3 linked regions of the Homo sapiens genome follow. The protein of the gene in region 1 purifies or fractionates together with the protein of each later gene. This does not show direct contact. Each region holds a gene or a part of one and is shown in the gene's direction. Other genes may lie near its edges.

Region 1 (3,749 bases):
TTTTTTGTATTTTTAGTAGAGACAGGGTTTCACTGCATTAGCCAGGATGGTCTCGATCTCCTGACCTCGTGATCTACCCACCTCGGCCTCCCAAAGTGCTGGGATTACTGGCGTGAGCCACCGCGCCTGGCTTCAAATGACCTCTTAAATAAAGGTGTGGAAGGACACACTCCTGGCTGTGAACAGCACCCGTGGTCCAGGAGGAGACAGCACTCCTCTGTGAACATCTTGCTTAGTTCTACATGTTCCAAGAAGCAGGCGATTTGACAGACATTCATTAAATTAATTAAAGTGTAAGGTATTTTCTCCCATTTGAACCATCCGCCTTCCCCCAATCCATGCAGGACCTGGACCCAGACACACCCCAGCCCAGGGCTGGACAGAGAGGGGATCGGGGTGGGGCAATGTGAAGCTGCTATGGTTAGGGTGGGGAGGTATGGGGGCAAAGTGGGCTACAGACTGCAGGATCTAGGCCTGGAGGTCTTCAGTGCTGACATACAGAAGGTTTTTGGTCCTGAAATGCTAACTACATCTATCACCATGGAGAAAAGCCCAATGACCTGCTACTTGGGAGGCTAAGGTGGGAGGATCACTTGAGCCAGGGAGGTCGTGGCTGCAGTAAGCCATGATCACACCACTGCACTCCAGCCTGGGCAATGGAGCAAGATCCTGTCTCAAAAGAAAAAAACCCAGTGACCAATGGCTCACAGTTCCAGGACTCTCTGCCTTACAGGTTCCTGCCCTCATGTTACTCTTGGGGCTTCAAAGCCTGGTCTTGCTTCCTGTGTGGCCTCAGGCAGTTCCCTTGGCCTCTCTGAGCCCTGTATGAAGGATGGGCCAAGTATGGGCTTGGGCTTGGGAGGCCCGGTGGCTTGTAGCTAGATTTCTGCATCACAGAGCCTCTGGATCCATTCATTCATTCTCCGCGGGTTTCTTAAGTACTGCAGTGCCAGGCTTTGGGGACACAGCTGTTTTTGTTTTTGTTTTGTTTTGTTTGAGACAGAGTCTCACTCCGTCAACCAGGCTGGAGTGGAATGGCACGACCTCAGATCACTGCAACCTCCACCTCCTGGGTTCAAGTGATTCTCCTGCCCCAGCCTCCCAAGTAGCTGGGATTATAGGCGTGTGCCACCACACCCAGGTAATTTTTGTATTGTTTGTATTGTTAGTAGGTCTCAAACTCCTGACCTCAGGTGATTCGCCCGTCTCCGCCTCCCAACATGCTTTGACTACAGGTGTGAGCCACTGCGCCTGGCAGGGGTCACAGCTGTTAATAGGACAGCCCAAGTTCCCCCCTCCCCCGCTTGGATCCCCCAGTCTACTAGGAGATGTCAACTGTGCAAGTGGTTAGCTCTGGGCACTATGCCCACAGGGTCCTGGTGGCATCTGGAGGGTACCAGGGTAGCATACCATGCCTGTTCTCTTTCCCTGCTGTGACCTGTTTGAAGGATGAGGAGCCAACAGGGGGCAGTTTGGGGCACCTGATTTCCCTGGACCATGAGCCTTGCTCCAGAACCCAATTGTGATGTGATAAAAGGCTTATGACCAGGGCAGGGGGCAGCTGCTGGGCCGCCTTGGACAACCATCAGGCAGCCAGGACACAGAGGGGCAGAGCAAGTCAGCATTGGCGCCCCTTCCTCAGATCCCTATCATCTTGGGAAACAGTAGCCCAGAGGTTCAGGAAGATGTTAACTTAAATGTTCAGGGTGCCCCAGTCTGTTCAGCATGGCTGAAATCCACACTCCGTATTCTTCCTTGAAGAAACTGTTATCTTTACTCAATGGCTTCGTGGCTGTAAGTATGTCACAATCCAGGCCCCTGGTTTGTTGCAGCCCTTCCTCCACAGTCAGCTCCCTGAAAGACAGAAATAAGTTGATCCAAATTGGCATCGAGATCTGTGGTTCCCTGGAGAAGCAGGAGGGATGTAGGGCAGACGGAGGAGGAGGAGCAGGGAGCGTGGGGACCTCCATCAACCGAGAGCTGGTGAAATCCAGCACAGATGAGTGTGATCTGGGGGAGCCCAGGTGGGTGATGGAAGAGCTTGGCTCTAAGTCAAATCCTGTAGCCGACCAAGTTGTTTGGGAAGGCCAGGAGAAAGGGTTATTTTCTTGATCTTTTAAATTTGTCACATTTTTTTCCTTACCGTAAAAGTAACCCGAAATGTACATTGCTAAGGAATTGTCAGGCCGGGGGCGCTGGCTCATGCCTGTAATCCCAACGCTTTGGGAGGCCAAGGCGGGTGGATCACGAGGTCAGGAGTTCAAGACCAGCCTTGGTCAATATGGGGAAACCCCATCTCTACTAAAAATACAAAAAAATTAGATGGGCGTGGTGGCACGTGCCTATAATCCCAGCTACTCAGGAGGCTGAGGCATGTGAATTGCTTGAACCTGGGCGGCAGAGGTTGGCAGTGAGCCGAGATTGTGTCACTGCACTCCAGCCTGGGCAACATAGCGAGACTCTGTCTCAATAAAAAAATAAAAGAATAAAAACATAAAAAGAAGTAATTGTCTTCATTGTAGCATAGTCTAAGGAAAAGCTGCCAGGAAAGAGAAGGAAATGAAATATCACTCCTCCTCTTCACTTGTAACATTTTAAAGAGAATTAAGGCCGGCTGTGGTGACTCATGCCTGTAATCCCAGCACTTTGGGAGGCCGAGGTGGGCAGATCCATTGAGCCAGGAGCTCGAGACCAGCTATAGTGAGATCCCCATCTCTATTTAAAAAATAATAATACAAAATAAAGTGTTATTGGAACATGGCCGTGCTCACTTATTTGGAGATTGTGAACAGCTGCTTTTGGGCTACACCAATAGAACTGCGTAGTTTCAACAGACACCTTAAGTCCTGCAGAGGCCACAACATCTGGGTTTTTCAGAAAAAAAAAATTGCTAATCCCTGTCCTATGACATTATTTTATTTTATTTTATTTTATTTTATTTTGAGACGGAGTCTTGCTCTGTCACCCAGGCTGGAGTGCAGTGGCATGATCTCAGCTCACTGCAACCTCCACCTCCCAGGTTTAAGCGATTCTTCTGCCTCAGCCTCCTGAGTAGCTGGGATTACAGGTGCCCACCACCACGCCCGGCCAATTTTTGTATTTTTAGTAGAGACAGGGTTTCGCCATGTTGGCCAGGCTGGTCTCGAACTCCTGACCTCAGGTGATCCACCTGCTTCGGCCTCCCAAAGTGCTGGGATTACAGGTGTGAGCCACTGTGGCTGGCCTATTTTATTTTTTGAGACAAGGTCTTGATCTGTCATCCAGGCTGGAGTACAGTGGCACAGTCATAGCTCACTGCAGTCTCAACCTCATGAGCTAAAGTGATCCTCCCACTGCAGACACCTGAGTAGCTGAGACTACAGGCACGCACTACTACTGGCTATTTTTTTTTTGTTGGGGAGAGGGTACAGATGAGGTCTTACCAAGCTGGTCTTGAACTCCTGGGCTCAAGTCTTGGCCTTGGCCTCCCAAAGTGCTGGGATTACAGGCATGAGCCACCGCACTCACCCAGTTCTATTTGTATACAACTAACAGATTACTTTTCTTCCTTTCTGGTTTCTGTTCTAAAGGTGTCTGGCATCATCCTAGTTGGCCTGGGCATTGGTGGTAAATGTGGAGGGGCCTCTCTGACGAATGTCCTCGGGCTGTCCTCCGCATACCTCCTTCACGTTGGCAACCTGTGCCTGGTGATGGGATGCATCACGGTACTGCTTGGCTGTGCCGGGTGGTATGGAGCGACTAAAGAGAGC
Region 2 (3,649 bases), about 10 Mb from region 1:
TGGACGGGTGGGGGCCCAGCCACTGCTTGCCACTGCCCTGTCTGGCCCCTTGTAGGCAGGGGCTTGTCCAAGATGGCCTGGGTAAAGTCTTGAGGATTGTGGGAGACTTTGTGCCTTCCTACTCAAAAAGCAAGGAGGTCAGGGTGGGAACAGGGCTGAGGGTGGCAGTGCCCACCTCTTTAGGCTGATAAAGGTAACTGCCATCTCCAATGCAGTGTAACTACTTGGTGCCAGCATGCATCGTGGTGCTCATCTTTCTGGCCTTCCAGCAGAGGGCATATGTGGCCCCTGCCAACCTGCCTGCTCTCCTGCTGTTGCTACTACTGTATGGGTGAGGCCCCCAGTCCCTCAGGGCCTATTCTTACTGACCCCTTACTGCCTTCCACATTAATGCTGCTGAGATAGAACTCTGCAGTGACTCCCAAGGAGAGGATATGGAGGTCTGAGGTGATGCCGTGTGTGATCCAATTCAGTGGTGTGCCAAGGTGGCCTTAAAAGCTCATCTTATCCTGACTCATATTAGTAGAGTTCTAAGGCAGCCCATGCCTGTAATTCCAGTACTTTGGGAGGCCGAGGCAGGAGGACTGCTTGTGGCCAGGAGTTTGAGACCAGCCTGGGAAACATAGAGAGACCCACCTCTAAAAAAGAAAGAAAGAGAGAGAAAGAGAAAGAGAGAAAGAAAAAAAAAAAAACAGAAATGTGCTTTGGGTGAAAATGTCAAGGTCTAAGGCAGAGAAGATGGGAATGGAGATTTTTATTCCTCTCAGGGCTTCTCAGTCTGAGTGGTTACTCCAGTGACTCCTATTGTCCCTTCAGCTGGTCGATCACACCGCTCATGTACCCAGCCTCCTTCTTCTTCTCCGTGCCCAGCACAGCCTATGTGGTGCTCACCTGCATAAACCTCTTTATTGGCATCAATGGAAGCATGGCCACCTTTGTGCTTGAGCTCTTCTCTGATCAGGTGGGGCACCACGAGGCTGGGGCTTGGGCTGGGTTGGGTCGTTGGACTCAGCCCCTGACCAACATCCGTCTCCCACCCTTGAGCAGAAGCTGCAGGAGGTGAGCCGGATCTTGAAACAGGTCTTCCTTATCTTCCCCCACTTCTGCTTGGGCCGGGGGCTCATTGACATGGTGCGGAACCAGGCCATGGCTGATGCCTTTGAGCGCTTGGGTGAGAACTTCCTGTCAGGTGGGGCCATGGCTACAGATAGCTAGCACCCTTGGAGACCTAGAGTTAATTATACAGAGTGGAGAAAAACAGCCCCCCAGGGAGACAGCCAGGGTTCTTAGGTGGCCCTAAGGTTGGGCCAAGTTGGAGGTACAAGAAAGCAGCCATAAAAAGCTAATTCTTAGATTACATCACAAGAGGCCTCTTCTGTTTTCTATGCCAATTAGACTCCAGCTGAGTGGCCTATCCAATTTGTGTTCCTTTCCCTTAAGAATCCAGAGTGACATGGATGGAGAAAGGGCCAGAAACCAAGACTCTCATGGACCCAGTCCCTCCTTTCTATATCCACAGGAGACAGGCAGTTCCAGTCACCCCTGCGCTGGGAGGTGGTCGGCAAGAACCTCTTGGCCATGGTGATACAGGGGCCCCTCTTCCTTCTCTTCACACTACTGCTGCAGCACCGAAGCCAACTCCTGCCACAGTTAGTGAGGTCTATGGAGAGGGTGGCAGGGGCCAAGGACCTACTTTAAGCCCACAGATATTCTGTCCCCAGGCCCAGGGTGAGGTCTCTGCCACTCCTGGGAGAGGAGGACGAGGATGTAGCCCGTGAACGGGAGCGGGTGGTCCAAGGAGCCACCCAGGGGGATGTGTTGGTGCTGAGGAACTTGACCAAGGTAGGTGTGGTCAGGTCGACTGCTGGGTGGGGGGTGCTCCCACTGGCCCACTCACCTTTCTGAAAGACCTGCACTCTCCCAGGTATACCGTGGGCAGAGGATGCCAGCTGTTGACCGCTTGTGCCTGGGGATTCCCCCTGGTGAGGTGAGTCCAGGGGTGGAGGCCAGGTGCAGGGACAGTGAGTGGCTGCCCTACTGCATGCCCTGCCCATCATCCTTTACTGAACACCTACTGTGTATCCACCACCTTTTATTGGGCACCTACTGTATGCCAATATTTGTGCTCCTATTTTTATTTTATTATATTATTATTTATTTATTTATTTATTTATTTATTTATTTGAGATGGAGTCTCACTCTGTCTCCCAGGCTGGAGTGCAGTGGTGGGATCTCAGCTCACTGCAAGCTCCACCTCCCGGGTTCATGCCATTCTCCTGCCTCAGCCTCCCGAGTAGCTGGGACTGCAGGCGCCCACCACCACGCCCGGCTAATTTTTTTGTATTTTTAGCAGAGACGGGGTTTCACCGTGTTAGCCAGGATGGTCTCCATCTCCTGACCTCGTGATCCACCCGCCTCAGCCTCCCAGAGTGCTGGGATTACAAGCGTGAGCCACCACACCTGCCCTATTTTATCTTTTTTTAGAGACGGAGTCTCACTCTGTCGCCCAGGCTGGAGTGCAGTGGTGAGATCTCGGCTCACTACAAGCTCCACCTCCCGGGTTCACACCATTTTCCTGCCTCAGCCTCCCAGGTAGCTGGGACTGCAGGCGCCTGCCATCACGCCTGGCTAATTTTTGTATTTTTAGTAGAGACAGGGCTTCACCATATTAGCCAGGATGGTCTCGATCTCCTGACCTCATGATCCACCCGCCTCAGCCTCCCAAAGTGCTGGGATTACAGGCGTGAGCCACTGCGTCTGGCCTGTGCATTTATCTTGAGCCAACAAAACCTCATTAAGCACCTACTGCATGCTTACCTCTGTTAAACACACACTGTGCTCACTAAAGAGGTGTACTGAATACTTTTGTGTCCATCAACGTTTATCAAATACCAATAGAATTTATTGGACCCCTATTGTATACACATCTACATCAAGCACTTGCTCACAGCCAGCATTTATCAGGCACCTGCTTTGTACCAGTTCACATTCAAGCACCTACTATATACAAATGTATTTGCTGTGTGCCACTTATTGGCCACCTACTAGGGCTGGTACACATCTGCAAACAAGTGCTGTTTGTTAGCACACATTGCAGTATATATATATATTTTTTTTTCTTTTTTTTTCTTTTGAGATGGAGTCTCACTGTCACCCAGCTTGGTGTGCAATGGTGTAATCTTGGCTCACGGTAACCTCCGCCTCCCAGGTTCAAGCGATTCTCCAGCCTCAGCCTCCCGAGTAGCTGGGACCACAGGCACATGCCGCCATGCCCAGCTGATTTTGTATTTTTAGTAGAGACGGGGTTTCACCATGTTGGCCAGGCTGGTCTTGCACTCCTGACCTCAAATGATCCACCCACCTTGGCCTCCGAAAGTTCTGGGATCACATGTGTGAGCCACCATGCCCGGCCTTTGTTTTTTTCTTTTTTTTTTTTTTTGAGACAAAGTCTCGCTCTGCCACCCAGGCTGGAGTGCAGTGTCACGATCTCGGCTCACTGCAACCTCTGCCTCCCAGGTTCAGGCGATTCTCCTGCCTCAGCCTCCTGAGTAGCTGGGATTACAGGCGCCCGCCACCACAACCGGCTAATTTTTGTATTTTTAGTAGAGATGGGGTTTCACAATGTTGGTCAGGCTGATCTTGAACTCTT
Region 3 (3,649 bases), on another chromosome or scaffold:
GTGGGCCGAATGTAGACACCAGAATAGACTATAATGCAAGAGACAACAATTGAGATGGATGAAGTTGGTCACTGCATTTGGCCATTTGTAAGAAAGATTGTACACAATGTTTTATACTTATGATGACTTTGTGCTATATTAAATTTTAAAGAGGATATTTATTGCTCAAAAGAAAGAAAAGGCAAGAGGGAGGAAGGAAGGGGAGAACACAGTTTCTAGTTTTTAGATGGAATGAATAAAGCTTCCACGGTCATGATTTGGACGCTCTCCAAAGTCCAGTAGGCTCCAGGAAACTCCAGGGATTGTCGTGGCATTAGAGCCAGTCCTAGGTGCCAAAGTCAAAATAGGCCACGCTGGCCCGTTGAGCCCAAGCGGGAGCAGCGTATGTAGGTCACTTACATGTTTTGAATTTAGACGGGCTGAGTTGATACAATTGTTTTACAATGAAGCTCTGGAGAAACACGGAACATTCTAAATCTTTAGAAAAGCGCTTGTTTCACAACATATAAGAAACTTGCAACATCAGCTGGAAGGATGGCCTCAGTGGTTCACAGTGGGGCCCTCTGTGTCGGGGGGCCAGGCAGGGAGTTCTGCGTGTGCCCACAGTCCTTGCTCGATGTGATGGTGGCTCTTCCCTCAGAGAGTGTCTTGAGCTGACCGTGAGGATCAGGATTAAACACAAGCGTTTTCTTAGCCACACTCCATAAACGCTGTTGTGATGCAGGGAAAGATTAATTAATAAAAATAGGAAGTATTTATGAGCCATCGGATTAATCTCACAAGTGTTTATTGAACATCTCCTACGCCCTAGGGTGGGAAGCACAGAAAGTGTGTAGAAAGGAAGGCAAGGAGACACCAAATACGGGGCCAGTTTTGCCTAACACTGTGGTTGTGCCCATGCTTTCCCCCAGAGCACACAGAGACATGATTTCCCCCTCCCTCCAGGTCACCTGTCTCTTAAAAGGCCCCCTTCTGTTTTATTCTCTGCAGTCACCCCTAACCTCCCACACGTAACAACAGAGTGGGACACATTGGCTCCACGGGAGACTGTGCTTAGCAGGAGCTTGGGCCTCTTGGGGAAGAACTGAATTAGCAACATCACGAATGCTGCTTTTGTTTTACCAGCTGCCACTGTTAAGTTCTTACTTAATGAAAGTATTTGCTTTTCCATAAATACATGTAAATTTCCTACCTCTTACTTGTCATAGCCAGAGAAAGCTCTGTGAGTGGTAATTAAGGAAGGAAGCTTCTTTAAAACAAATCACTGTAGTTGAGAACATCCGTGTAAGCAACACCATCCTCAAAATTGATGAATTTACCAATTGTCCTACCCTATTGTAACTTTAAAGCAGTCACTTAAGTTTATTTTAATTAATAATTCTTTAATTTTAAAAGCAGTGTGCTTATGGTAAAAGAATCAAGCGCTTGTGGTTATAAGATAATCAGAGCAACCCGAGGGATTCACTCCCTTGTTTGAAATCCTCCAGGGGTTTCTTGTAACCCTTGGAGTGAAATCCCAGTGCCTTTCCAGGCTCTACAGGACCTTACCAGATCTGAACTCTCCTTCGGCTTCACCCACCTGTCTCCCTTCTTTACGACCTTGATTTCACATCCACACTGGCCTCTAATACACCAAGTTTATTCCCACGTCAGGGCCTCGGCCCTGCTCTCCCTCTGCCCAGCGTACTGTTTACCCATCAGAGTGTGGCTGGCTCCTTCCCCCATTCAGGTCTCATCACGATGTTCCTGCCATAGAGATGGCTCCCTGATCACCCTATCTAATGACCACCCCCCGCACCCTGCCGGCCCCTCATCTGCTCGCATCCCTGTATTTTATCATTGTGCTCTTTATCCTTTTCTGAAAATGCTTTATTGCTTGCTGGCTTATTTTCTGTCTCCCTTCTAGATTGTAAGCTCAGTGCGGGTGAGAGTCTTGTCCATTCAGTTATGTCATATGCCTAACACTTAGAAAAGGGTCCGACACCCAGTGAACCCTCAGTAAATATTGGCTTAATTGGATGAAGGGCACTTATGAGAATTAAATAATGATTAGGCTGAGCATGGTGGCTCACGCCTGTAATCCCAGCATTTTGGGAGGCCGGATCACTTGAGGCCAGACATTCGAGACCAGCCTGGCAAACACAGTGAAACCTCATCTCTACTAAAAAAAAAAAAAAAAAAAAAATTGCCAGACGAGTTGGCGCACACTTGTAATCCCACATATTCAGGAAGCTGAGACGTGAGAATCACTTGAACCCGGGAGGCGGAGGTTGCAGTGAGCCGAGATTGCGCCACTGCACTCCAGCCTGGGCAGCAGAGTGAGACTGTTTCAAAATAAATAAATAAATAAAAATAAAATAACCGAGAATTAAATAATGATTAGTATAGGACCTGGCACATTGTAAGGACCCAAGAGATGGAAGTTTGCTTCCTTTCCCTCCCCACCTCCCCAGGGTGTGTTTTGAAAACTGATTTAATTACACTGTTCTGTCTTAAATATATTCACATGGCATTCAATTATGCTGAGTACAGTCAAGCATACTAGGTGAGTACAAAATGGCCTCGCAGGCCAGGTACAGTGGCTCACACCTGTAATCCCAGCACTTTGGGAGGCTGAGTCAGGCAGATCACTTGAGGTCAGGAGTTTGAGACCAGCCTGGCCAACATGGTGAAATCCCATCTCTACTAAAAATACAAAAATTAGCCGTGTATGGTGGTACACGCCTGTAATTCCAGCTACTCAGGGGGCTGAGGCAGGAGAATTGCTTGAACCCAGGAGGCGGAGGTTGCAGTGAGCTGAGATGGCACCACTTCACTCCAGCCTGGGTGAAAGAACGAGTCTCTATCTGGGGGAAAAAAAAAAAAAGTAGTAAAGTACCCATTTAAGTATAATTTAAATATTTTTTAACTTACTTTTCCAGGTCGTCCTTGGTGGAAGGAACCATGAACTGGCATCTCCCCCTCTTCCTCTTGGCCTCTGTGACGCTGCCTTCCATCTGCTCCCACTTCAATCCTCTGTCTCTCGAGGAACTAGGCTCCAACACGGGGATCCAGGTTTTCAATCAGATTGTGAAGTCGAGGCCTCATGACAACATCGTGATCTCTCCCCATGGGATTGCGTCGGTCCTGGGGATGCTTCAGCTGGGGGCGGACGGCAGGACCAAGAAGCAGCTCGCCATGGTGATGAGATACGGCGTAAATGGTGCGTGTGCACAATTGCTCACTGGCGGAGCCTTTGCCTGAGAGTCTTGTGACAGGAGGGTTTATGGCTTGGTTTTTGCTGACAACCCCAAGAAGCAGAGCAGCCAGAAGGGGATTTGCTGGTGCCACTTGGGGCTTGGGGTCAGTCTCTTCTAAAGAACAAACACTGTGGTGCTGGCAGTTAGGAGAACTAGACTCTGGTCCCTTTTTTGTACTTTTGGAGCTTGGGGTCTGCCACTAGGTCTCCTTTCCCAGGGCTCCAGCCCTCGTTCCAGCGAGGGGGACACTTCCTGGCTTACCGCCTCCATGGCGCCCAGGGTTGAGTTGCGCTGTGATCGTAGATGTGCTTGTGAAGCCTGTGAGAGGAGCTGGGAAGGGGTGGCTGTGGAGGGCCCAGGGGCCTCGTAGTGATGGAGCCATCCTGGGTCTTGATTGTGGTGGTGGCCAC

Evidence for each region.
Region 2: the proteins of TSPAN16 (region 1) and ABCA7 purify together in Homo sapiens (affinity purification with mass spectrometry; one large-scale study listed by BioGRID and IntAct). This does not show direct contact.
Region 3: the proteins of TSPAN16 (region 1) and SERPINE2 purify together in Homo sapiens (affinity purification with mass spectrometry; one large-scale study listed by BioGRID and IntAct). This does not show direct contact.

What each region holds. Positions count from the first base shown.
Region 1 is NC_000019.10:11,294,573-11,298,321, forward strand, and holds the start of TSPAN16 (tetraspanin-16), read left to right. Parts: upstream 1-1,587; 5' UTR 1,588-1,725; coding exon 1,726-1,794; intron 1,795-1,930; exon of another isoform or gene 1,931-2,024; intron 2,025-3,569; coding exon 3,570-3,749.
Region 2 is NC_000019.10:1,057,099-1,060,747, forward strand, and holds part of ABCA7 (phospholipid-transporting ATPase ABCA7), read left to right. Parts: intron 1-215; coding exon 216-331; intron 332-767; coding exon of another isoform or gene 768-816; coding exon 817-961; intron 962-1,047; coding exon 1,048-1,171; intron 1,172-1,519; coding exon 1,520-1,649; intron 1,650-1,721; coding exon 1,722-1,842; intron 1,843-1,924; coding exon 1,925-1,987; intron 1,988-3,649. UniProt on the Homo sapiens protein: Catalyzes the translocation of specific phospholipids from the cytoplasmic to the extracellular/lumenal leaflet of membrane coupled to the hydrolysis of ATP. Transports preferentially phosphatidylserine over phosphatidylcholine.
Region 3 is NC_000002.12:224,001,195-224,004,843, reverse strand, and holds part of SERPINE2 (glia-derived nexin isoform b precursor), read left to right. Parts: intron 1-2,921; coding exon of another isoform or gene 2,922-2,943; coding exon 2,944-3,202; intron 3,203-3,649. UniProt on the Homo sapiens protein: Serine protease inhibitor with activity toward thrombin, trypsin, and urokinase. Promotes neurite extension by inhibiting thrombin. Binds heparin.